Linked DNA regions of Homo sapiens. The protein of the gene in region 7 purifies or fractionates together with the protein of the main gene of each other region. This does not show direct contact. Each region holds a gene or a part of one and is shown on either strand. Other genes may lie near its edges.

Region 1 (3,500 bases), on a different chromosome or scaffold from region 7:
ATGTGCCCTGTGCAGGCTCCACTCCTCCATGTGGCCTGCTTGACACATTCCTGCTAGAGGGACATGGGCGGCCTGCTCCTGCACTCTGCAGCAGGCCCTGGGCTGGCCCCTCCTTTGTAATGAGTCCCTCTGCAAACAAGGCCCCCTACAATCCTCACTTGAGTGTGCGTCTGTCCTGCTAGGAACCTGACCGAGACAATGTTCTCTCAAGATTCACCTGCACAGAAGGGAACTCCTGGTTTTCTCTACTTGCCTCTACCTCCACGAATGGCAACTCCCAGCACCCCCTGCTCAGGCCAAAAACAAGGGAAAGCACTCTCGCCCCATGCACTGTCACCCTTCCTCCTGCACCCCACCCACACGCAGGCCCACACACACAGGGAAGATGCTGTGGTCAGGTGTATTCGCAGCCCACCTTCTGCAGGCTGGTCCCTGTGGAGCTGGCCGCTGTTTACACCTTCCAAAGGCATTCTCAGGATCAAAGAAAAGACTAGATCTAAAGCATTCAGGGCAGTGCTTTTGACACTCTTGGACTGTCCCAAGTTCACTAAGGGTGAGGCCTTGGGCAGGCGCTAAGCAAACATCTGTTCTGTGCATGACTATGTGGCCTTGCCGAGAGGTTTTCTATCCAGTTCCTGTGCCGGGTTCACATGTGTACTAGAGAAAAAGGAGACCTGCAGAGAGTAAGAAAAAGAAAATAAGTGAAAAACAAGCAAGGCGCGGTGGCTCACGCCTGTAATCCCAGCACTGTGGGAGGCCAAGGCGGGCAGATCACCTGAGGTCAGGAGTTCGAGATCAGCCTGGCCAGCATGGTGAAACCCTGTCTCTACTAAAAATACAAAAATTAGCTGGGCGTGGTGGTGGGCGCCTGTACTCCCAGCTACTTGAGAGACTGAGAGAGGAGAATTGCTTGAACCCAGGAGGTGGAGGTTGCAGTGAGCCGGAGGTTGCAGTGATCCTAACGTTGCAGTGAGCTGAGATCACACCGCTGCACTCCAGCCTGGGAGAGTGAGACTCCATCTCAAAAAGAAAAAAAAAGAAAAAGAAATAAAAATACAAAAATTAGCTGGGGGTGGTGGCGCACGCCTATAATCCCAGCTGCTTGGGAGTCTGAGGCAGGAGAATCGCTTGAACCCAGGACGGGAGGGATGCAGTGAGCCGAGATCATGCCATTGCACTCCAGCCGGGGTGACAAGAGTGAGATTCCATCTCAAAAAAAAGAAAAGAAAGAAAAGAAAAAGAAAAGAAAGAAGGAAGGGAAGGAAGGAAGGAGAGAGAGAGAAATAAAGAAGGGAAGGAGGGAAGAAAGGAAAGAAAGGAAAGAAAGGAAAGAAAGAAAGAAAGAAAGAAAGAAAGAAAGAAAGAAAGAAAGAAAGAAGAAAGAAAAAGAAAGAAAGAAAGAGAAAGAAAGAAAGAAAAGAAAAGAAAGAAAAGAAGGAAAGAAAGAAAGAAGCGTCCCATGTTCTGGTGTTTGGTGTATTATCCACTGTGGTCATCAGCCTCCTGGAAGCCACTTTCCCCGCACGAACCATGTGGTCTAAGATTTGGCATCAATGAACTTTTGGATAAGGCTGGAGACTTGAGTGTGAATGGAAAGACTGAAATGAAAACCTCTGTGACCGCTCAGCGCCTTACAGTAGCCAGTCACCGCATATGGCTGCTTACATTTGAATTAAATAAAGACTTCAGTTCTTCAGTCTCATGAGCCACCTTTCAAGTGCTTGGCAGTCACGTGGGTGAGCGGCTACCACTGTGGACACAGCAGATGTGGGCCACCCCTGCAGCAACAGACAGAGCCGCTGGCAGTGCTGTCCTCCCACCGAGATGCTGAGAGGCAACAGCAGGCATCTCATGGTATTCGATGTCACTTTTTTTTGGAGACAGAGTCTCGCCCTGTCGCCCAGGCTGGAGTGCAATGGCGCGATCTCAGCTCACTGCAACCTCTGCCTCCCGGGTTCAAGCAATTCTCCTGCCTCAGCCTCATGAGTAGCTGGGATTACAGGCGTGCGCCACACGCCTGGCTAATTTTTTTTATCTTTAGTAGAGATGGGGTTTCACCATGCTGGCCGGGCTGGTCTTGAACTCCTGATCTCGTGATACGCCCACCTCAGGCTCCCAAAGTGCTGGGATTGCAGGCGTGAGCCACCACGCCTGGCCCGATGTCACTTTTCTATGCACGGGAGCTGCCATACACACTGTAACCACCCTGGTCCCCATCCACTCTGGGACCATCCTTCCACTGCTGGGTTATGAAGTTCATGCCTGGGATGCAGAGTCATCCAGCCCCTCCATTTTGCTGATAAATTATCTAGAAATACAACCCTGGGATACGACAAGTGCACGCATACATCATCTCAGGCTGTGCGACCTCCTCCCCGGCCCCCTGGAGAAACCCACGAATAAGCAGGGGCTTCTGAGCCAAGAAGACCAGGTCAAGTCAAGCCAGGAGCACTAAGCAAGACACCCAAGGAATCATCAGCTGTTCCTGGAGAGCCTGGGCAGGCTCAGTCTGCCCCTGGAGCTTTCAGCCTAGCCAGGCAAGGCAGATGAGATGCAGTGAACCCAGGCTTCTGGTTCTTCATCTACACTGCACGCCTTGCTCCTTGCAGGAACTGCCTCTCCACTCTCAGTTGTCCACATGCTTCTAGGTCAGGTGATGCACAGGCCCACCAGCCAGAGCCCCTGCTCAGGAACTGGTGCTCCCCAAACAGATCTAGGAGGAAAAATGGTGGGTAGAAGCCACAATGGCAGCCGGGGCAGGGGGTGGAGAGGCTGCCTCCTGACAACAGCAGCCTGCAGGAGACACACAGGTGATGATTCCACTTAGGGCGTGATCATAAGTGCTGTCAGCACTGCCAGTTTTCCTAGAAACTTCAGGCACTAAATCTGTTTTTCCATGTCTTCTGTAGCTATGTGACTTTCCTCTTCTGTAATGGCTTGCAATGACGTTTTTAAAGAAAACGCTCCACACCCTGAAAACACACATACAAGGAGCAACTACGAAAGCTTAAACTGGGCACAAGGTTGACAAAGCAGCGAACAGATATGACTCAGGTCCAGAGGGACTAGAAATGACTCAGGCACAAAGGTAAGTTTCTAAGAAACTGAGGAGGAATGTGCAATTCTTCTCCTTTTTAAACCTGACTTCAAGTAGGAAACTGAAGCGGTGGAAAGAAAACTGCCAGTGAGCCCTGAAGGAGGAGGCAGTGTGGGTCTGCAGGCACTGACACTCCACACCCAGGACAACTCACGCTGCAGCACCCAGACCACCCACGCGGCATGCCCACGTGCCTCCCAGGACACTCGGGAGCAGGAGCTCTGTCTGTTCATTCGCCAGATGCGTGGGACACCCTTTAGGGAAGTCACCAAGCAGCTTGTTTTCCCAGCAGCAACTATTAATATAAGTTAATTTGTTAACAAAGCTTCTGCTGTGTGTAACCTTTATTATTTATCTATTTGTTTTTTAGGTTTCATTTAGTGTAACCCAGCAAGTACTTTTA
Region 2 (3,500 bases), on a different chromosome or scaffold from region 7:
ACAGAATGACACGCTGTCTCAAAATAAATAAATAAATAAATAAATAAACAAATAGTCTTATTTATCTTTCTGAATTCAACAATTGTGCATTGAAGTCCTACTATTGCATTAGACTGGTGATGAGAAGAACTGTGCACATTCTCCTTATAACTGTGCCGCTTATTAGTTATATGACTTTGAGCTTAAACTTTTATTGTCTATAAAATGGAGATAATACTATCTTTCCTAAAGTTTGGGCATAGTGGCTCAGGCCTGTAATCCCAGTACTTTGGGATGCCAAGCCAGGCCAATCACCTGAGGTCAGGAGTTTGAGACCAGCCTGGCCAACATGGTGACACCTTGTCTCTACTAAAAATACAAAAATTAGGTGAGCGTGGTGGCGCGTGCCTATAATCGCAGCTACTCAGGAGGCTGAGGCATGACAATCACTTGAACTCAGGAGTGGGAGGTTGCAGTGACCCAAGATCGCGCCACTGCATTCCAGCCTGGGCAACAGAGTGAGACTCCATCTCAAAAAATATCTGTCCTGGAGAATAACAAAGATGATTAACAGCAGGGTAGACACTGGGGGAGTACAGAAGAGCAAACATGATGGGAAAACAGCCCTTTTTTTTTTCTTCTATGTACTTCCTAGAGTTCCCACATTTAAACAAAAACATGCAGGAGAAAATATTATTTAAAAATAGTAATACTGCCCCTACCTCAGTCATAAGGCCACTGTCACTCAAATAATCTAAGGCATAGACAAGCACCTCGTGGGGCCCTCACAAATGTGAGGAGTTGTTCTGTTTGCATTGACCCACAGGGGTGGAGATGGGGACAGAGCACCCAAATAGTACAAGTCTGCCAAAGTTCATGACATAAATGGGAGAAGGGCCACACCACACACCCACCAGGCCCTCATCTGCATCCTCACCCCAGGACAGGGGGATTCATGCTTCATTGAGAGCCCTGAGGACTCCAGGGAAAATGATGCTTCAAAGTCAGACTGCCCTGATAAGGTATGAAAACTTGAAAATGGAGAGGAAGCCAAAGCTGCCCTGACTTTGAGAATGGTCCAGGCAGGCAAGGAATTCACCCGCTTGGGGCCAGGACCCTTGTGGGTGGTTGGTGAGAATGGGGCAGCATCACTTCAGTCCCCTTCACCCCAGACTCCGAGAAACTCCATTTTCTGTTTCCTGGAAAGAAAACTGATGCAGGGGAAAAGCCAAACTATATTTTGGGATCTCAACAAGAGCCACACTAACTCAAAGCCAGACTGTCCATAAAGCAGTAATGTCTTAGGAAGCCACACCCTGACCTCTGACCGTAGAGCTGGCACAGAGGCCACCAGCAGCAGGGCTGAGGGTCGAAGGAATCGTTCAGGATGCCCAGGAGGCTCTCTCTGCCCCCTCGGCGCCAGGGAAAGCTTTGTGGGCTGAGGATGTGGAGCAAGCTGACATGGTGAGATGGGCTGGGGACTGGGTTCTGAGAGGTGGGGAGGGCTTGCACAGGCAGTGGGGTGGGAGAAGTTACCCCAGACATGGGGAATGGTATGAGGCACTTGCTTTCATTGTTTTCTCAAATAGATATTAGCTGCCATTCAGTGCTGGGCACCCTGCTAGGCATGGAGTAGGATGGGAGACGGAAGGACCCATCCAGCTTTGTCACTCTCCTTCACAGTGAGGAAGGACATAGGCTTTGGAGCTGGGCACCTGGGAAAATGTTTTTGTTATTGGGAGAATTAAGCAGGACAAAATCTATAAAGTATCAGGCCTGGTCCTAGGGGTTACAAGCCAGGGGCCTGTTTGGTCAGTCACAGCAACTGGCTGAGTTTGTACCCAGCGATGCTCTAGGACTACTCCTAAATATCTCTTCTGTCTGTCACATAGCCACCCCCCACCACCAGAACCATCAGGACTTACAACTTCATGTCTTTATCGTTCCTTCACTGGGTTTCTGCAGTAGTCCCCCAGGTGGACTTTTTATCCTTCCCACGGTGACACAAATCTGATCCTTCATTTCAGAGCCATTTACAAGGCTCTCTAATGCCTTTAGGATAAGAGCCATGCTCCCTACTATAGCAATCAAAGCATTTCATGATCTGACTCCTAATCTCTCCCCTCCTCAATCATCACCCACAGCACTCCTGCCAGACTATAATGGCAATGGCAAAGGTTTGTTCAGCTCTTACTGTAGCAGAGCTGAGTACTTTGCATTTCTGTTTAATTCTCCTAACAATCCATGAGAGAGGAATTGTACTTTATAAATGGATAAACAAGTTTGGAGAGCTATACAACATGATTAGAGGGACTGCTGGAATACAAGCCTGAATCTGCACTGCCTCCAAAAGCATACAATGCTATGTCAGGTCACTAAAACGTTGCTCACACCCTTCCTCTTGTGTGAAACATCCGCCATCTCTTTCCCTTTTGGTGTACTCCTATTCATCCTTCAAAACTCACTAAGGCATTAACTGTCACCTCTGTAAGGCTTCTGTGACAGCAGAATGAAGTCTGCATTGCTGCTTTGTTTTGTATGCATGTCCATTATAGCAAGATTCTTCATGTGGTGGTGTATTTGCTTTCACATCTTCCCTGCTAGTTTCCTGGAGAGTGTCTCATCTCTGAATCCCAATAAACACTGGGCAACTGAAGCAAAAATTCTAGTATAACCACTTGGGAAAACGTTTATCTAAATGTAGTTGACCACTGCCTGAAAATTTTCCTCTGAAATTATGGTGTGGACTACAGGTGAATTGGCCTAAGATATTTTATAAACCCAATCCTTACTATTCTTTAGTACAATACTAGCTTTTGGACAAGGTTTTCGGAGGAGTTTGCCTTTATACATATTCTTTCATGGACCACACTAAAGATGCTACAAGCTCTCTTCACCCTGAGTGCTTACTTAGAAAATGACTTTGTGAGGTTTCCAGACACTGGCTGAACCCATTTCACCCCAGCCTCCAAGCAGCTCCACAAATAATTTGAACTACTCTTTGCTAAGAATGATCACACAGAGGATAAATATTCTTCCCCACACATGCTAACATCTTCTCTCCTTGTTCCCAACAGCTGCAGATTTCCCTCTGGGGACCTATGCCTCCCCCACACTGTGTCCATTGGTCTGGGCAGAGCACACAGCCCAGCCTGAGCCAATCACACCTTCACATTCCCCTGGGCGCAGTGATTGGTTTAGGGTTGGGTGCATCTTGTGGTCCCCCATGACGCGGTCACCATAAGGTCCTCCAAGTCGGAGTGTACATTAGGACTTTTGGGAGAGGTACTGGAAATAACTCTCCTATTTTCCCAGCAGACCTCACCCTAGGTGGAGGTGAAGAGAGGCTGCAGCAATGTGGCTCCCACAGGGGAGAGAGCTTAGAGACTGGAGTCAGTGCAAAAGAAGCAGAGCCAAGAAATGGGTGGAACCAGGTCCTAGCAACATCATTTGCAGTCTGGGTCAGGTTGTACCTGAAGCTTATCTTGCTCAACTTTTTAGTCAGGTGAGGCAAGAAATTC
Region 3 (3,500 bases), on a different chromosome or scaffold from region 7:
ACATGCCACCACGCCCAGCTAATTTTTGTATTTTTAGTAGAGAAGGGGTTTCACCATGTTGGCCAGGCTGGTCTTGAACTCCTGACCTCAAATGATCCACCCGCCTTGGCCTCCCAAAGTGCTGGGATTATAGGCAGGAGCCACCGTGTCCGTCCCAACCTGGTCACTTTCAAGAGGTCAGCAAGGCCCAGAGATGAAGGGACTGCCCGGAGCACACCCAGGCAGGCCCCCAAGGTCAAGCAGAAGCGACCTGCAGGACTTCCGGGGAAAGGAGGGTGGCTCCGGGTCGTGCTGTGTGTCTGCCTGTAAATCTGCTCTGTGGCTCATTGAGGGGCCAGATAACTTTTGGGTGCCAGGAGCAGAGAATTGTGCAAGCATGTATTATGGTCTGTAATCATATTAATAAGGGAGAAGTGGACGGGCCCTGGCTTCCTCCTCTGTATAGTGCTGGGTCAATCACAACAGTCTCAGGGTTGGGCATGAGCAAGAGCGTATTCTGGAAGTCAGCAGGCCAGGTGCACCTGTGGGCAGGGCCGGGTCTGGGTCTGTTTCTGTTTCATTTTTGGGCTTGAACTAAGGAGCCCTGTGGCTTTGGCTGCTGTCTCCCCACAGGTGCCCGAGTGGAGGAGTTCCTGTATGAGAAGCTGGACAGGAAGGTCCCCTCAAGGGTCACCAACGGGGAGCTGCTGGCTCAGTACATGGCAGACGCGGCCAGTGAGCTGGGGCCGACCACCCCCTATGGTGAGCAGGCCTCACAGCCAGGGACTAGGGGTCATGGTCTTTAGCTCTGATTCTCCCTCCCTCCCTTCCTTTTTTTTACTTAAAAAAATAATTATACAAATAATACCTGAATTCATTCTAAATGTAAAAACTCTACGCAGAAAAAAAGAGTAAAAAATGGAATCTTCTCTTAACCAGTTTTGGTTTGTGTGTGTGTGTGTGTTTTGTTTTTGTTTTTTTTTGAGATGGAGTCTCGCTCTGTCGCCCAGGCTAGAGTGCAGTGGCGTGATCTCGGCTCACTGCAAGCTCCACCTCCTGGGTTCCCGCCGTTCTCCTGCCTCAGCCTCCCAAGTAGCTGGGACTACAGGCGCCCGTGACCACGCCTGGCTAATTTTTTTTGTATTTTTTAGTAGAGACGAGGTTTCACCATGTTAGCCAGGATGGTCTCGATCTCCTGACCTCGTGATCTGCCCGCCTATGCCTCGAAAACTGCTGGGATTACAGGCGTGAGCCACCGCGCCCGGCCTATTTTTTTTTTTTTGAGACACAGTTTCACTCCATCACCCAGGCTGGAGTGCGGTGGTGCGATCTCAGCTCACTGCAACGCCCCTGCCTCCCAGGTTCAAGTGATTCTCCTGCCTCAGCCTCCCGAGTAGCTGGGACTACAGGAGCCCGCCACCACACCCAGCTAATTTTTGTGTTTTTAGTAGAGGCAGGGTTTCACCATGTTGACCAGGCTGTTCTCAAACTCCTGACCTCAAGTGATCCGCCTGCCTCAGCCTCCCAAAGTGCTGGGATTACAGGTGTGAGCCACCGCACCTGGCCTATTTGTGTGTATTTTTTAATGGAATCATATTGTGTGCTATCTGGGAACCTGACTTTTTTTTTTTTTTTTTTTTTTTTTTGGAGATGGAGTTTTGCTCTGTTGTCCGGGCTGGAGTGCAGTGGCGCAATCTCAGCTCACTGCAACCTCCGCCTCCTGGGTTCAAGCAATTCTCCTGCCTCAGCCTCCCAAGTAGCTGGGATTCCATGTGCCCACCAGCACACCTGGCTAACTTTTTTGTATTTTTAGTAGAGACGGTGTTTTACCATGTTGGCCAGGCTGGTTTCCAACTCCTGACCTCAAGTGATCTGCCCGCCATGGCCTCCCAAAGTGCTGGGATTACGGGCATGAGCCACCGCACCCGGCTGGAACCTGACTTTTTAACTTGACATCATATTACAGGTATCTTTTCACTGAAGCATTTATAGAACCATATCCATCTTTTTTTTTTCATTTTAAAATTTTATCCAAGTATAAGCTATATATTATGTGTTTAAGTGTATAATTCAATGATTTTTAGTAAATTTACAGAGTTGTACAAACATCTCCACAATCTAACTTTTTTTTTTTTTTTTTTTTTGAGGCAGAGTCTCACTCTGTCACCCAGGCTGGAGTGCGGTGGCGCAATCTCAGCTCACTGCAACCTCTGCCTCCTGGGTTCAAGCATCCCGGGTCCTCCCTCAGCTACCCAAGGAGCTAGGATTGCACACGCCCACCACCACTCCCAGCTAATTTTTGTATTTTTAGCAGAGACCGGGTTTCACCATGTTATCCAGGCAGGTCTCGATCTCCTGACCTCCGGTGATCCACCCGCCTCAGCCTCCCAAAGTGCTGGGATAACAGGCGTGAGCAACTGCGCCCAGCCAAACTTATTTATTTTTTATTTTCTGTTACCTTTTTTGAGACAGGGTCTGGCTCTGTCCCCCAGGCTGGATTGCAGTGGTGCAATCTCAGCTCACTGCAACCTCTGCCTTTTGGGCTGAAGGCATCCTTCCACCTCAGCCTCCTGATTAGCTGGGATTACAGGTGTCCACCACCATGCCCTTCTAATTTTTATATTTTTCTGTAGAGATGGGGATCTCGCTATGTTGCCCAGGCTGATCTCAAACTCCTAAGCTGAAGTGACCTCCCACCTTGGCCTCCCAAAGTGCTGGGATTACAGGAGTGTGCCACCGTGCCCGGCCCACAGTCTAATTTAAAGAACATTTCCATCACACCCCAAAAGTCCTTCATGTCTATTGTCAAGCCCCATTTTCACCTCCAGCCAGCCAACCACTAACGTGTTTTCGGTCCCTATAAGTTCATTTTTTCTGAACATTTTATATAAATGGAATCATATGACATGTTGTTTCTTGCATTTAGCTGCTTTTACCTAACATAATTTTTTTTTTTTTTTTGAGATGGAGTCTCACTCTGTCACCCAGGCTGGAGTGCAGTGGCACAATCTCGACTCACTGCAAGCTCCTCCTCCCGGGTTCATGCCATTCTCCTGCCTCAGCCTCCCGAGTAGCTGGACTACAGGCGCCTGCCACCACGCTCGGCTAATTTTTTGTATTTTTAGTAGAGATGAGGTTTCACCATCTTGGCCAGGCTGGTCTTGAACTCCTGACCTCGTGATCCACCCGCCTCGGCCTCCCAAAGTGCTGGGATTACAGGCATAGCCACTGTGCCTGGCCTCAGGTAAATTTAACTTAACTCTTTTTTTTTTTTTTGAGACGGAGTCTCTCTCTGTCACCTAGGCTGGAGTGCAGTGGCGCAATCTTGGCTCACTGCAACCTCCGCCTCCTGGGTTCAAGCAATTCTCTTGCCTCAGCCTTCCAAGTCGCTGGGATTACAGGCACCCGCCACCATGCCCAGCTAATTTTTTGTGTTTTTAGTAGAGACGGGGTCTCACCATGTTGGCCAGGCTGGTCTTGAACTCCTGACCTTGTGATCCGCCCGCCTTGGCCTCCCAAAG
Region 4 (3,500 bases), on a different chromosome or scaffold from region 7:
ACATACCACACTACACATACCACATACATACCACGCACACATACGTACACCATATACTCCCCCATACCATACCACCCACGCCTATCCACACACACACCACACATTACACACACACACCATACGACACACACAAACAGCGCACACACCCCCACATACACCACACCCACACCGCACACCACACATACACACACACACACACACACAACGCACCCACACAGAACCAAATAGCTATCTGCTGGCCACCCTAGAAGTCTGGGTGGGGATGGGAAAATACAGCCTTTAGGCAGGCATGGACCTTGGGCCCTGTGGACTCCTTGCCCCACAACTGAGAGATAAGATGAAGCCACCTAAAGAGCAGGGCCCTGGATAGTGGCAGGGACTCTGTTTACCCAGAGAAAAGGAATGTGCAGTCTCCCAAGCCCTGTCTTTTCACAGTCTTCATCACAGCAAACACCACCACCATCTATCCTCCCTGTCATTCCAGTCAATCACCCAGGAGTCATTATTGATTCCTCTCTTTCCCTCACTCCCTGCCTCTGATCAATCAGCAAGTTCAGATTGCATCCTGAATCCAGCTTCTCTTCTCCAGCTTTCTCCTGCTATCACCCGAACTTCTCCATTAGTGCTACTGAGGCTGCAGGGACACAATAGTCTCCCATCAGCATCCAGTCTTAACCCTTATAATTCATTCTTTATAGAGAAGCCAGAGTGATCTTTTACAAATATAAACAAGATGATGTCTCTTTGCTTAAAAGTCCTCCATTGACTTCCTCTTGCACTTGAAACAAATATCAAACTCTTTACCGAGACCTGCAAGGGCCACCATGATCCAGCCTCTGCCTACCTTCCTGTCCTCCTCTCACCATCCTCCCTCTTATCTCCTACACTCCCTACACTGAAATAACTCCTTTCCATAAATGGGCCAAAGCTGCTCTCACCTCAGAGGCTTTGCCCTTGCTGTTCCACCTCCTCCAAAAACTCTGCCCTAGAACTTTTCATGGTGGCTCCCTCATGTCATTTGGATCAATTCAAATGTCACCTCCTCAGAGAAGCCTTTCACAACCATGCAGTCTCTCCCCCACCACCTTCCACCCTCCACCAGTACTCATCTTCCCATCAGCATGGTTTTGTCATCTTTAGAACTCATACTACTACCTGAAAGTATCTTTTATTTGTTGACTTGTTCACTATCTGTCTTTCCCTGAAGGTCAACTGCAGGAGAGCAGAGAAATTGCTTATCTTGTTCACTGTGAGCATATGTCTTAGAGATCTATCCATCTACACAAATAGATCTGCCTCATCTCTCTACGGCTGCACAATAATAATAATTATTATTATTTTTTCGAGATGTTGTCTTGCTCTGTCACCCAGGCTGGAGTGCAGTGGCAGGATTTCGACTTGCTGCAACCTCTGCATTCTAGAAACACAGATTCTCCACCTCCCAGGTTAAAGCAATTCTTGTGCCTCGGCCTTTGAAGTAGCTGGGACCTCAGGCATGCCCCAGCACACCCTGCTAATTTTTGTATTTTTAGTAGAGACGGGGTTTCACCATGTTGGCCAGTCTCAAACTCCTGTTGTTGGTCTCAAAGTCCTGACCCCACGTGATCTGCCTGCCTTGGCCTCACAAAGTGCTGGGATTATAGGTGTGAGCCACCGTGCCCAGCCTCCACAATAATTCTTAATACAAACACATCATGGTTGCATTAGCTTCAACAAATGTTCTTATATATGCCTCCTTATACAAGGATAACATGGGCATAAGTTTCATGGAGTAGATATTGAGAATTTCTGGGTCATGAGGTATGCATGTTTTGAACTGTGAATTTTACTAAATATTTAATAAACGTTGACAAGTTTCCTCCACAAAGTGGTTGAAGCGGCTTCCACTTTCACTAAGGTGCATGAAGTATATCCATTTGCTCATATTGATGTAATCACATTTTACCCAATTTTTGGCAAGCCTACATGTGAAGGAATACTATATCTCATTGTTGTCATAATTTGCCATATGATTTTCTTCTGGCAAATTTTCTCATAATTTTCTTTATTCATATGAAAGTCAACAATTATTGTTTATTTTACATACATTAAGTAGTTAGCATAGTCTGCTTGTGTTACCAGTTTTTGCGTATAAATCAGCCTCTTCCATTTCATTAGGAATTCTGAAAGGGTGGAGATTTCTGTATCATCTAGAAAAAAATGTAATAGGTGCTCAGTAAATACTGACCATTTGTTGAATGAAGACTGTAATATTGCACCAGGTCAGTGGCTCATGCCTATAATCCCAGCACTTTGGGAGGCTGAGGCAGGTGGATCACTTGAGGCCAGGAGTTCGAGACCAACCTGGACAACATGGTGAAACCCAGTCTCTACTAAAAATACAAAAACTAGCCCGGCATGGTGGCACATGCCTGTAGTCCCAGCTACTCAGGAGGCTGAGGCAGGAAAGTCACTTGAACCCAGAAGGTGGAAGTTGCAGTGAGGCGACATCATGCCACTGCACTCCAGCCTGGGTGACAGAACAAGACTCTGTCTCAAAATAAATAAATAAAAGGTGGTAATATTGCAAGAAGAAATGTATCACCAAGAAGAAATAGGACAGTGAGCATATGCCTGTCTGTTCTGGAAGATGCCCTTTTGGTTTCCTTCCCATGGCTTTAAACAAGTGGGCTAGAGAGACTTACCATCATCCACAGGATAGTCTAGGAAATCATCTCCCTCCTCCTCTTTAGGCTGATCTCCACCTTCTGATTCTCCGGGCTCCTCATCTGTTTTCTCATTGTCTGAGCGGTAGATGATGATGGATTCTGGGCGTGACTCTTTCCTCTTCTTTTTCCTGTGCCCCATTGTGGATTCCCCATCCAGCGCCAGGGCAGCAGCCACAGCCTTCCTGAGAGAGCCCTGGTGGGGGCTTGGAAGCTGGACCTGGCCTTCTACTGCTGTTGGCTCTTCCATTCCAGACCTGACGTCTACCTATGTCTTATAAAGAGTTGGACTTGTTTGAGTAAACTCACAGTTCACACATCACAGAACTTCTTCCTAGATGGGGCTATGCAAAGATGTCCCAAGGATGCATTCCACCTGAAAGATAGGAAAGCAAAGCCATCAACAGGAAGCAAATGGGGTGAGATGGACAGGAATGTGGGAAACGATCCTCAACTTAGCAGAAGCCTTCCTCTCCCTTTACTTCTTGCAATACTTTATTTTGGGAATGCAATCTAAATCTCTTATAATAGACAGTGAATAAACTTTTGCTACAGTAATATTTTTGTCATTTATACAAACATATAATATTTGGCAAAACCCATGTGAAGGAATACTATATCTCATTGTTGTCATAATTTGCATTTTCCTTATTCATATGAAAGTCAACAATTATTGTTTCTTTATTTTATATACATAAGTAGTTAGCATAGTCTGCTTGTGTTACCGATTTTTGTGTATAAATCAGCCTCTAGTTGGAGCATGCAGAGTATAAGGAAGTTGGGTGAGGAAGCCTT
Region 5 (3,500 bases), on a different chromosome or scaffold from region 7:
GTATTGGAATTCCTAGTTTGGAGAAGTGCCTCATATTGAATTACACAATAAATAATTTTCTATTACATGAATTTACTGTTCCTAGCTAGAACATTTCAAAGAATCTTAAGTTCCACACATCAAGACTGGCACACAAACACCAGAGGTGAGGCTTCGTCAGCATGTACAAATGGGGCAGAACAGACTATGCAGAAAATATTTGTATAAAGGATACGGGTACTTACGGCTTCAGCATCCGAACGCAGCAGTCTCTTTACTTCATTTTCCACGTCTGGAGATTCAATGTACTGAAGCAAAGTTGGGGATTAGAGGGGGATACCAATACTGTCATTTAACACCCTGTGTGTTGCAGGAGTGCCCTCCTACGTACCAACGAATTCAAATGTTAGGCCTCTTTAAATTCTGATCCAACCAAATTTCTACTTTAAGTAGTGCTATTTATAAAGGAATCTTTAGCCAGGGTCTAGAATTTTGTACAGTAAACTTACTTTTTTCCTAATTAAACAAATTACTTGAGACATTTAATCTTTTCAATCTGCAGCTCTATGGTAAAGCCCTCTCTCAGAGGTGCAACCCTTAGGTCTCAGTTATAAATTATTTCTCCTGATTTATATTGGCAAAGAACTATAATTCCTTATTAGTTATTTAGAAATAATTTGGTTTAAAGATCCAAATTCCCAGATTTCACTTCCCCACATCTTTATTATTAGAGACGTTCCTATAAAAACTGGATCTTAGCTGCATGTTCTCCCTTGAATCCAGTTTTACATAATTATCTCCACAGCAACCAATTTGTTGTGCCACAAATAGAAATTAGGATTTTGATGGGGAATAAGCAATTGCAAACAACTGCTGTTAAAAGTGAGCTCTGGCTCCCAAGGAATGGCTTTTGAAATAAATATCAGAATAAAAAGAGCAGATTAGAATACACGGGGTCACTGGCCAAATTGTATCTTTTCCTCTAGCAGTTATCAAACATCAAACAATGAATTCATTTTTTAGTGAATCAAACCCAGTGTATGTGTTTAGGATGAGGGTTAGAGGTGAGAAGGAAGGCTCAAAAGTAGCTTCTGTGGTTTATTTGATTCATTTGAAACTAATGAGCTATTAAATAAAACACATTAAGGGTAAAAATGAAGTTATATTATGATTGCTCTACCTCAGTAAAGCTGCTTTTTTCCATTTCTTTGACATCAGGGACCTATGAAATAAAACACAATAAACAAGTTATATTATGATACCTATATTTCAGTAAAGCTTAAAGAGCTCTACAACTATCCTTAACTTAGTTTTACATTTAGTAGGCACTCAATAAATGTTGATTTACAGAGTATAAAAGCCAAGGCAACTGTGTTCATGGATTGGAAGACTCAATATAGTAAAAATGTCAGTTCTCCCCAAATTGATCTACAAGTTTAATGTAATTCCTGCCAAAATTCTAGCAAGGTTTTCTATAGCTATAGACAAGCTTATTCTAAAATTTATATTAAAAGATACAGGCTTTTGGCCAGGCGTGGTGGCTCATGCCTGTAATCTCAGCACTTTGGGAGGCCAAGGCGGGCGGATCACGTGAGGTCAGGAGTTCGAGACCAGCCTGGCCAACATGGTGAAACCCGTCTCTACTAAAAATACAAAAATTAGCCGGGCATGGTGGCCCATGCCTGTAATCCTGGCTACTTGGGAGGCTGAGGCATGAGAGTCGCTTGAACCCGGGAGGCAGAGACTGCAGTGAGCAGAGATCGTGCCATTGCACTCCAGCCTGGGCAACAGAGCGAGACTCCATCTCAAAAAATAAATAAATAAATAAATAAATAAAGATATGGACTCTAGAATGGCTAAACAATATTGACAAAGAAAAGTAAAGTCAGAGCAATCAGCCTTCTAATTTCAGGACCAATTATATAGCGACACTGTGATATTGGTGGAGGGATTGACAGATGGATCAGTGGAGGAGAATGGAGAACCCAGAAACAGACCCATAAAACCAAGCCCAACTGATATTTCACAAAGGTGCAAAAGCAATACAACAGAGGAAGAATAGCCTTTTCAACAAATAGTGCGAGAGCAATTAGACATCCTTTGGCAAGAAAAGCAAAAACAAACAAACAAACAAAAACAAAACAACAACAACAACAAAAAAAAAACCTTGAACTAAACCTCATAGCTTTTACAAAAATTAAGTCGAAAATGGGCATCAGGCTTAAAAAGATGTAAAAAAAAAAAAAAAGCAGGAGAAAATCTTCAGGATCTGGGCTAGGCAAAGAGTTCTTAGATTTACTATAAAAAGCAAGATCGTTTTCAAAAAAATCAATATATTGTACTTCATCAAAACTAAAAACTTTTGCTCTCTGAAAGACCCTACGAAGAGGATGGAAAGACAAGCTACAGACTGGGAGAATATATTTGCAAACTACATATCTGATAAAACACTGGTAGTATTTAAAATATAAAAAGAACTCTCAAAATTCAATAATAAAAAATCAATTTAGAAAATAGGCAAAAGGCATGAGCAGACATTTCGCTGAAGTGGAATAGATGGCACATGAGATGCTCAACCCCGTTAACCATCAGGGAAATGTAAATTAATACTACAATGGGATCACTATGCACCTATCAGAATGGCTAAAATGAAAAATAGTGACAACACCTAATGCTGGTGAGGAGGTGGAGAAACTGGATCATTCATACATTATTGGCAGGAATATAAAATGGTACAGTCACTCTGGAAAACAGGTCATTTCTTACAAAACTAAACATGTGACTACCATATGACCCAGCAATTATACTCCTGGACATTTATTCCAAAGAAATGAATACTTATATTCACACAAAAACCTGTTCACAGCTTTATTTATAATAGTCAAAACCTGTAAACAACCCAGATGTCCTTCAAAGGGAGAACAGTTATGTAATGTGGTACATTCATACCATGGAATACTACTCAGCAATAAAAAATAAACTATTGATGCTACAAAAACTTATATGGATCTTAAGTGAATTATGCTGAATGAAAAAATAAGCTAGTCTCTGATGTTATATACTATATAATTCCATTAATATTAAATTTTTGAAATGACAAAATTACAGAGATAGAGATCAGATTAGTGATTACCAAGTGTCAGAGACTGGGGTGTGAGGTGGAAGGGAAGTGGGCATGGTTATATAAAAGCAAAATGAGGGATCCTTGTGATGAAACTGTTTTGTATTTTGACTGTGTAGACAGATACATGAACTTACACATGGGATAAAACTGCATAGAACTAAACACATGCACAAAAATACACGAGTACAAGTAAAACTGGAGAAATTGGAATAAGATTGCAGAATTCTAATCATGTCAATTACCTGTTTGTGGTATTGTACTATAGTTTTGCAAAATGGGGAAAATGGCGAAAGGGTACACGATATCTCTCTTTTATTTCTTACAACTGTATATGAATTTACAATTATTTCAAAATAACATGTTTAATTTTAAACAAAAGAAGAAGCCAAGCCACAAT
Region 6 (3,500 bases), on a different chromosome or scaffold from region 7:
AGCCTGTAAGGATCAGAGACTTTGGGATGAGCTTGAAAAATCAATCCTCTCCTAGTCGAGTCTTCAGATGAAACCAGAGTCCTGACTGACAGCTTGATTGCAACCTCATGAGATACCTTGAGCCAGAGGTACCCAGCTAAGCTGCACCCAGATTAATGACCCATAGAATCTGTTTGATAATGTTTGTCCTTTTATGACACTTAAGTTTTACAATAATTTGTCAAGCAACATGAGATAACTCATACATATGAAAATCAAACTTTGAGTTGCAAGGATTTAATCTATGAGTGACTGACATCCCATAGGGTTGGGGGTGAGGATTAAACAAGTTAAAGGTGCAGTGACTCATTCTTGTAATCCCAGTACTTTGGAAGGGTGAGGCGGGAGAATCACTTGAACCCAGGAGTTTGAGAACAGCCTGGGCAACAGAGCAAGACCGCTTCTCTGCCAACTGAATTAGCCAGGCATGGTGGTGGCATGAGCCTATAGTCCCAGCTACTCCGGAGGCCTAGGTGAGAGGATCGCTTGAGCCTGGGAGGTTGAGGCTGCAGTGAGCAATGACCACACCACTGTACTCCAGCTTAGGTGACAGAGTAAGATCTTGTCTCTCTAAAAAAAAATAAAAGGCCAGGCGCAGCGGCTCACGCCTGTAATCCCAGCACTTTGGGAGGCCGAGGCAGGCAGGTCACCTGAGGTCAGGAGTTTGAGACCAGCCTGGCCAACATGGCAAAACCCCACCTCTACTAAAAGTACAAAAATTAGCCGGGTAGGGTGGCACGCGACTGTAATCCTAGCTACTTGGGAGGCTTGGCAGGAGAATCACTTGAACCCAGGAGGTGGAGGTTGCAGTAAGCACAGATTGCACCACTGCACTCCAGCCTGCGCAACAGAGCGAGACTTCCTCTCAAAAATAAATAAATAAAATAAAAATTAATTAGTCAATCAATTTAATGAGTTAATATATGTAAAGCAGTTAGAATAGTGCCTGGCCCAGGGACTCTTATAGTAAGTCCTTGATTAGTTACATGACCATGTATTCCTTGTCCAGCTATAAATATTAAAAGCTCTCCCTTTCACACTCAAAATATTCCGGTTTGAACAAATTTGTTTGGTCACCTATCAAAGAGTGTTTGTGTATTGACTTATAACAGCCTTAGGAGGGAGAAAAATAGTGGAAAATGGAGGAGGAAGCAAAGCAGATGTGGCAGAGGAAAAGACTGAGTGCTCAGTCACTGGTCTTCTGCTGCTGGCTTTCCTCGCCCGTCTACCACTTCCCTCTCTTACCCAATTTGACAGCTGTGATGTTCCAGTGGTGGGTTTTTGCGTCATCAGCACAGAGACAACTGGAGGTCTGAGAATCTGCCCATGATTCTAGCTGGTACTCATGCGATTTAGCCAGGTCAGTCTGAACCTACGGAGGATGTTTAAGAGACAAAGGGTACAAACAAAGGAGGTAGTGCATAGAGGCCTGGGGAAACCTGGGGGCTGAGACGCCGACATCTCCTCTCTTTCCCAGGGAAAATTGGGATGCTTCCAATTTAGAGACAAACTTATGGGGGAGGTGTGATTCCAGGGCTGACACCTGATTCCTGTATCCCCAGCTCTCACCCTGATGCAATCCTTTAGGTAATTGAAGATGGTGGCAGTAAGACGAAAGGATTCCCCACGGACTACTGAGTAAGGGAGAGTCAGGTCAACAAAGAACGGCTTGAAAGCAGTTAGTCCAACAGTGGGTGAAAGCCCGAAGCCTCTTGACTGGGAAGTGCAGAAACTCATCGCCTTCCACTCGGTGATGGCGTCAGGAACTGTGACGTGGACCGCCTCCTTCCCCGAGTTACTGTGAAAACACAAGGACCAACATGAGGCAGAGGTAGCGTGGGGCAAGGAGAACATTTGTGAATTAAGCCACAAATTCGGTGGGGTGTGCTGGCTTACACTTGTAATCCCAGCTCTTTGAGAGGCTGAGGTGAGCAGATAGCTTCAGCCCAGCAGTTTGAGGCCAGCCTGGGAAACATAGCAAGACCCTATTTCTACCAAAAATTTAAAAATTAGCCAGGTGTGGTGGTGCATGCCTATAGTCCCAGCTACTTAGGAGGCTGAGGCAGGAGGATTGCTTGAGCCCAGGAGTTTGAGGCTGCAGTGAGCTATGATTGCACCACTGCACTCCAGCCTGGGTGACAGGGCAAGACCCTGTCCAAAAAAAAAAAGCTACAAATTCATCTGCAGAAGTAAAATTGTTATTGTTATTGTATGGGGAGAAGTAAAGAGGCAACTGAACAGGTGAGTCTCAGTGTGAGTGAGGCTGCACTCATACGGAGGAGGGGGACTATGGTGGGGAGTCGGGGTGGGCATCTCTGTGCAAGCACATCTGACAGAGAGGCTGGTGCCCTCTGAGTCTGAGGATGTGTGGTCTCAGGGCTTGTCAAAATGGATATGCAAGCAGTGAGCAAAAATTGATGTCAATATATACCTTTAAATGTGTGTGGTTCTGTAGTGAGAACACAGGGCCTGCAATGTGTGAGTGTGGAATTGTGTGGATTTGTTTTGAGTGGTTGTATATGAATGCATGAAGAATTCAGGTAGGCCGGGCGCAGTGGCTCACACCTGTAATCCCAACACTTTGGGAGGCCAAGGCGGGTGGATCACTTGAGGCCAGGAGTTCAAGACTAGCCTGGCCAACATAGCAAAACCCTGCCTCTACTAAAAATACAAAACTTAGCCAGGTGTGGTGGCATGTGCCTATAGTCCCAGCTACTTGGGAGGCTGAGGCACAAGAATTGCTTGAACCTAGGAGGTTGAGGCCTACAGTGAGCCAAAATCATGCCACTGCACTCCAGCCTGGGTGACAGAGCAAGACTCTGTCTTAAAAATAAAAAGAAAAAAAGAATTCCGGAAAATAAATAAATTCCCACACCCCATCAAGCTTTCTTTGCTTAAGATTTAGATCCATTAGGAATGCGTCTGATTCTGAGTTTTCTACAGGCTCTACATTGCAGAATCTTACTGTTTTTTTTCTGGGTTTGTTGTTGTCGTTGTCGTTGTTGATTTTGAGAAGGGTTTTGCTCTGTCACCCAAGCAGGAGTGAAGCAATGTGATCTTGCTTCACTGCAGCCTCCACCTCCCAGACTCAAGTGATCCTTCCACCTCAGCCTTCCAAGTAGGACACAACTACCATCTGGCTATTTTTTTAATTTCTTTTGTAGAGACAGAAGCTCATTATGTTGCCCAGGCTGGTCTTGAACTCCTGGTCTCAAGTGATCCTCCCTCCTAAGCCTCCCAAAGTGTTGGGATTACAGGCGTGAGCCATGCACCTGGCCCTTTACTGTACTTTTGAGTCATCACTTACCCAATAGGAAACAGATCCCAGAGCCAGGTCTCTGGGAAGTACTGGCGGACCTGAGAATCCTCTGCTTGATGTAAAGGAGTTGATGACTCAAAAGCCTCTGGATGACCACCGCCTGCTGATGAAATTGAGAATACGAAAACTTTAGGAAACAGGA
Region 7 (3,500 bases):
TTAAATTATCAGCAACTTGAAATGCTGGAAAATTGGGGTTTTGCCATATCACTCTGACAGTTGATGAGGAAAGGCGATTTTTCAACATTGAGACAAGAGACTTCATTTTTTTCTTTTTATTTCTTCCAAACAGATAGAACAGTTGAAACAAAAAGCAGATAAGAGAGTCAGAAGTGTAAGTACTTCTTTTGCAGTGGTAATTTTTTTTTCTTTTGTTAGGCTCTGTACTTCCATACAGTTTTTTTAATTGACTGACTAGAAACCAATTGTTGGCCTTTATTAAATAGTATTCCTTAATACATTTGTTGAAATTTGATGCAGTTAACTTTTGTTTTTATTTAAATAATTGGGACTAGAGGTTGGGAGGAATTTAGTCCATTTATATTGCCAACATAGGAAAATAATTATCCTCAATACAGCTCCTTAATGTGAAACCTATCCTTACAACTATGTTGTTGGATATGATGGCCACCAGCCACATGTGGCTGTTTTATTTAAATTTGTTAAAATTAAATCAATTTAAAAATTCAGTTTCTTGTTTGCATTCACTACATTGTAAGTGCTCACTCAGTAGCTACATGTGTCAAGTGCTGCTGCATTGGATACTACACATACAGAACATTTCCATCATGGCAGAATGTTCTTAGCCCTGCTCTAACTCTAATTCTTAGCTATGGGCTTGAAAAGAGGAGTAAGAAAAGCCTTGAGAACTAGAAACATTAGTTGCCTCCCAGGGAACTAGGTGGATGGGGAACTGGGAGGTTCCCCTAGAAGGGGAACTAGAAGGCTTGTCACTGGATATTTTGGATCTTGCTTTAAAATTTGAAATTCAGACTTAAAACTCAGATATCATGGGTGAATATTTAAAGGTTTCTTCTGATCACTGACGACAGGTTCGCTATAAAGTAATAGAAGATTATAGTGGTGCCTGCTGCCCTCTGAATAAAGGAATCAAAACCTTCTTCACAAGTCCCTGCACCGAAGAGCCTCGAATACAGCTGCAAAAAGGGGAATTCATTTTAGCCACAAGAGGTTTACGGTAAGTAATAGGAAGTACTGCATTTCTTCTTCAAGGACAAAATTAATATCTAGCCTAAAAAATTAATTTTCATCTTTTAAATATTTCAGATACTGGTTATATGGAGACAAAATTCTTGATGATTCCTTTATAGAAGGTATGGAAATGGAAGGGCATGTTTAAAGGACAAGACTATTAGCAATAATTCCAAATTTTACAAGAATAACTTTTATAAACCAATCATGCCTAATGCATTAGGGGAACTGCATAGAAGGGTATATCACTAAGCAACAAAAGGAACTTCCTTATATATTTCTCTATAGCTCTTGTATTTTTCAGGTCTTTTTAATGATAGCTAACATTTGAGCTCATAACTATGCGAAAAGTACTTGTATAAGTGCTACCCTTAAGGTGTAGAAGTCCCCAAAATACTTCGGAGGTAGGCACTATTATTTATATTTGATTGAGGGAACTGAAGCACAGAGAGGCAACTTGCCCATAGCTATGCACTGAAAACAGATGGAGCTAGGGCTTAACCCCAAGCAGTCTGACTCCAGATTCTATGCACCAAACCCCTGTACTATTTGCTGCCCCCACTTTGAGCATTTCTCTTAAGTTGTTATAAAAACCAGTAGATTGAAACTTTGTGTTTTTTTTTTTCTTAAGTTTTATAATTGTTTCTTTTTAAAGTAAAGATTAGCTCGGGATGTTCTTTAAAAAATAGTTGGGGTTAATCATAAATTAACCTCTTATGACGGCCGTGATATAGAAATGTATATGTTAGGCCAGGTGTGGTGACTCATGCCTGTAATCCCAGGACTTTGGGAGACCAAGGCAGATGGATCACCTGAGGTCAGGAGTTCAAGATCAGCCTGGCCAACATGGTGAAACCCTATCTCTACTAAAAATACAAAAATTAGCCGGGCATGGTGGTGTGTGCCTGTAATCCCAGCTGCTCCAGAGGCTGAGGCAGGAGAATTGCTTGAACCCGGGAGGCAGAGGTTGCAGTAATCTGAGATCGTGCCACTGCACTACAGCCTAGGTGACAGAGCAAGACTCCATCTCAAAAAAAAAAAAGAAAGAAATATATATGTTAGAAAAAGTCTAAAAAGGAAATTTACAAAGACTACAAGAAGATAGTTCCCTGGAAAAGACAGTGTGATGGTGTGCCAAAAACACCTTTCCTGATCATACACATATAAGTAAACACCCATACCGAGTTCCCCCTGACTCTAGTTAGGAGCTGTCTTTAACCACATTAGTCCCTATTCGGGATCATCAAATTTGGGAAATACCTGTTCCTAGCTTGTTATGAACATTTAAAAATCTTATTTTTTTCCCCTTCAAACTGTGCTTATAATAGATAGCAAAGTGGGGAATAAAAGTCTAACTACAAGCTTATTAATTTGAAGTAATAGGACTTACTGCTTTCAGTAATGTCACTGTCATCCATCAGACTATTTCACCTCAATTTCATTTTCTCCCTCAGGTGTTTCAAGAATAAGGGGTTGGTTCCCTAGAAAATGTGTGGAAAAGTGTCCCTGTGATGCTGAAACAGATCAAGCCCCAGAGGGGGAGAAGAAAAATAGATAGCTGCTGTTAAAACAAAATTATCCTTTAAGTCTGCTTAATTACTTGAAAATTGTACATATTACTAAAGAATTATGCAATGAGCCTACTCTGGTTAAGATGTTCTTTTCCTCAAAGGTGCCCTAGTGCCATGATTTAAATATTTTTATTACCATTTTGAAATGGAGAAGCCATTCTGCATATGCCTTTGAATTCCTGCCCCTCTTTACCACCTCTTCCTCCCCCTCAAAGGAAAAACATTTCATCCAAGTAAGTTAACGGCATTTTCTGTAGGATTTTCTTATGCACTGCACACTCTGGACCTCACCTGCAGATACAGTTCCCCCCTTGCCAGGAGCATCTGCATGTGGTACTTCTCTTTTCCCTCAGTTGATATTTCTTATATGATATTCTAGATACTATAGAACTCAATTTGTCAGATTCAGTATAACCTCAGATTTTGTTACCTGTCTTTTAAAAATGCAGATTTTGTCAAATCAAATAAAGATCAATGGATGTTGGGTATAATCAGTTTTTACTTAAAGCATTTTTCTTTTTGCTGACTAAAAAGGTTCATCTTAGTTCCTTATGGAAAAACTGCTCTGCTGCCCTGTGGACAACTGGCATCTTAAAACGTGGCTTAAGACATGACACACTTGCTTCAAGATATTAACCCTATTAATGGGATATTGCGGTCATAGTGATGGCAGCGGATGGCAGTGGTGGCCTGAGGGGTGTTGAGGGGGAGCCGTGATAGGCAGGAGCCAAGCGTAGCTACAGCTGTCCAGCCGTGGCTGCGGACCCGGGCATCCTTGTGCTCTAGGGGGCCGAGGGGAAATACCCCCCCCACACCCCCCCCCCAACAACTGCTTGGCCTCTTCCTGCTCCTGGCACTCGCTCTGGAGCAAAGGTG

What was found.
Region 1: the proteins of ZDHHC6 (region 7) and IMPA2 purify together in Homo sapiens (affinity purification with mass spectrometry; one large-scale study listed by BioGRID and IntAct). This does not show direct contact.
Region 2: the proteins of ZDHHC6 (region 7) and SDR9C7 purify together in Homo sapiens (affinity purification with mass spectrometry; one large-scale study listed by BioGRID and IntAct). This does not show direct contact.
Region 3: the proteins of ZDHHC6 (region 7) and SH3GLB2 purify together in Homo sapiens (affinity purification with mass spectrometry; one large-scale study listed by BioGRID and IntAct). This does not show direct contact.
Region 4: the proteins of ZDHHC6 (region 7) and TMEM169 purify together in Homo sapiens (co-immunoprecipitation; one large-scale study listed by IntAct). This does not show direct contact.
Region 5: the proteins of ZDHHC6 (region 7) and TAF7L purify together in Homo sapiens (co-immunoprecipitation; one large-scale study listed by IntAct). This does not show direct contact.
Region 6: the proteins of ZDHHC6 (region 7) and A2ML1 purify together in Homo sapiens (affinity purification with mass spectrometry; one large-scale study listed by BioGRID and IntAct). This does not show direct contact.

The regions. Positions count from the first base shown.
Region 1 is NC_000018.10:12,005,507-12,009,006, reverse strand, and holds part of IMPA2 (inositol monophosphatase 2), read right to left. Parts: intron 670-3,500; exon of another isoform or gene 598-669; coding exon of another isoform or gene 416-597; intron 1-415. UniProt on the Homo sapiens protein: Phosphatase that can use myo-inositol monophosphates, myo-inositol 1,4-diphosphate, scyllo-inositol-1,4-diphosphate, glucose-1-phosphate, beta-glycerophosphate and 2'-AMP as substrates in vitro.
Region 2 is NC_000012.12:56,924,409-56,927,908, forward strand, and holds part of SDR9C7 (short-chain dehydrogenase/reductase family 9C member 7), read right to left. Parts: intron 1-3,500. UniProt on the Homo sapiens protein: Plays a crucial role in the formation of the epidermal permeability barrier.
Region 3 is NC_000009.12:129,018,332-129,021,831, reverse strand, and holds part of SH3GLB2 (endophilin-B2), read left to right. Parts: intron 1-612; coding exon 613-741; intron 742-3,500.
Region 4 is NC_000002.12:216,095,419-216,098,918, reverse strand, and holds part of TMEM169 (transmembrane protein 169), read right to left. Parts: intron 3,082-3,500; 5' UTR 2,956-3,081; coding exon 2,685-2,955; intron 1-2,684.
Region 5 is NC_000023.11:101,277,835-101,281,334, forward strand, and holds part of TAF7L (transcription initiation factor TFIID subunit 7-like), read right to left. Parts: intron 1,202-3,500; coding exon 1,160-1,201; intron 288-1,159; coding exon 215-287; intron 1-214. UniProt on the Homo sapiens protein: Probably functions as a spermatogenesis-specific component of the DNA-binding general transcription factor complex TFIID, a multimeric protein complex that plays a central role in mediating promoter responses to various activators and repressors.
Region 6 is NC_000012.12:8,850,121-8,853,620, reverse strand, and holds part of A2ML1 (alpha-2-macroglobulin-like protein 1 isoform 1 precursor), read right to left. Parts: intron 3,462-3,500; coding exon 3,347-3,461; intron 1,838-3,346; coding exon 1,609-1,837; intron 1,412-1,608; coding exon 1,285-1,411; intron 1-1,284. UniProt on the Homo sapiens protein: Is able to inhibit all four classes of proteinases by a unique 'trapping' mechanism. This protein has a peptide stretch, called the 'bait region' which contains specific cleavage sites for different proteinases.
Region 7 is NC_000010.11:112,429,915-112,433,414, reverse strand, and holds the end of ZDHHC6 (palmitoyltransferase ZDHHC6), read left to right. Parts: intron 1-133; coding exon 134-175; intron 176-893; coding exon 894-1,039; intron 1,040-1,128; coding exon 1,129-1,175; intron 1,176-2,507; coding exon 2,508-2,611; 3' UTR 2,612-3,115; downstream 3,116-3,500. UniProt on the Homo sapiens protein: Endoplasmic reticulum palmitoyl acyltransferase that mediates palmitoylation of proteins such as AMFR, CALX, ITPR1 and TFRC.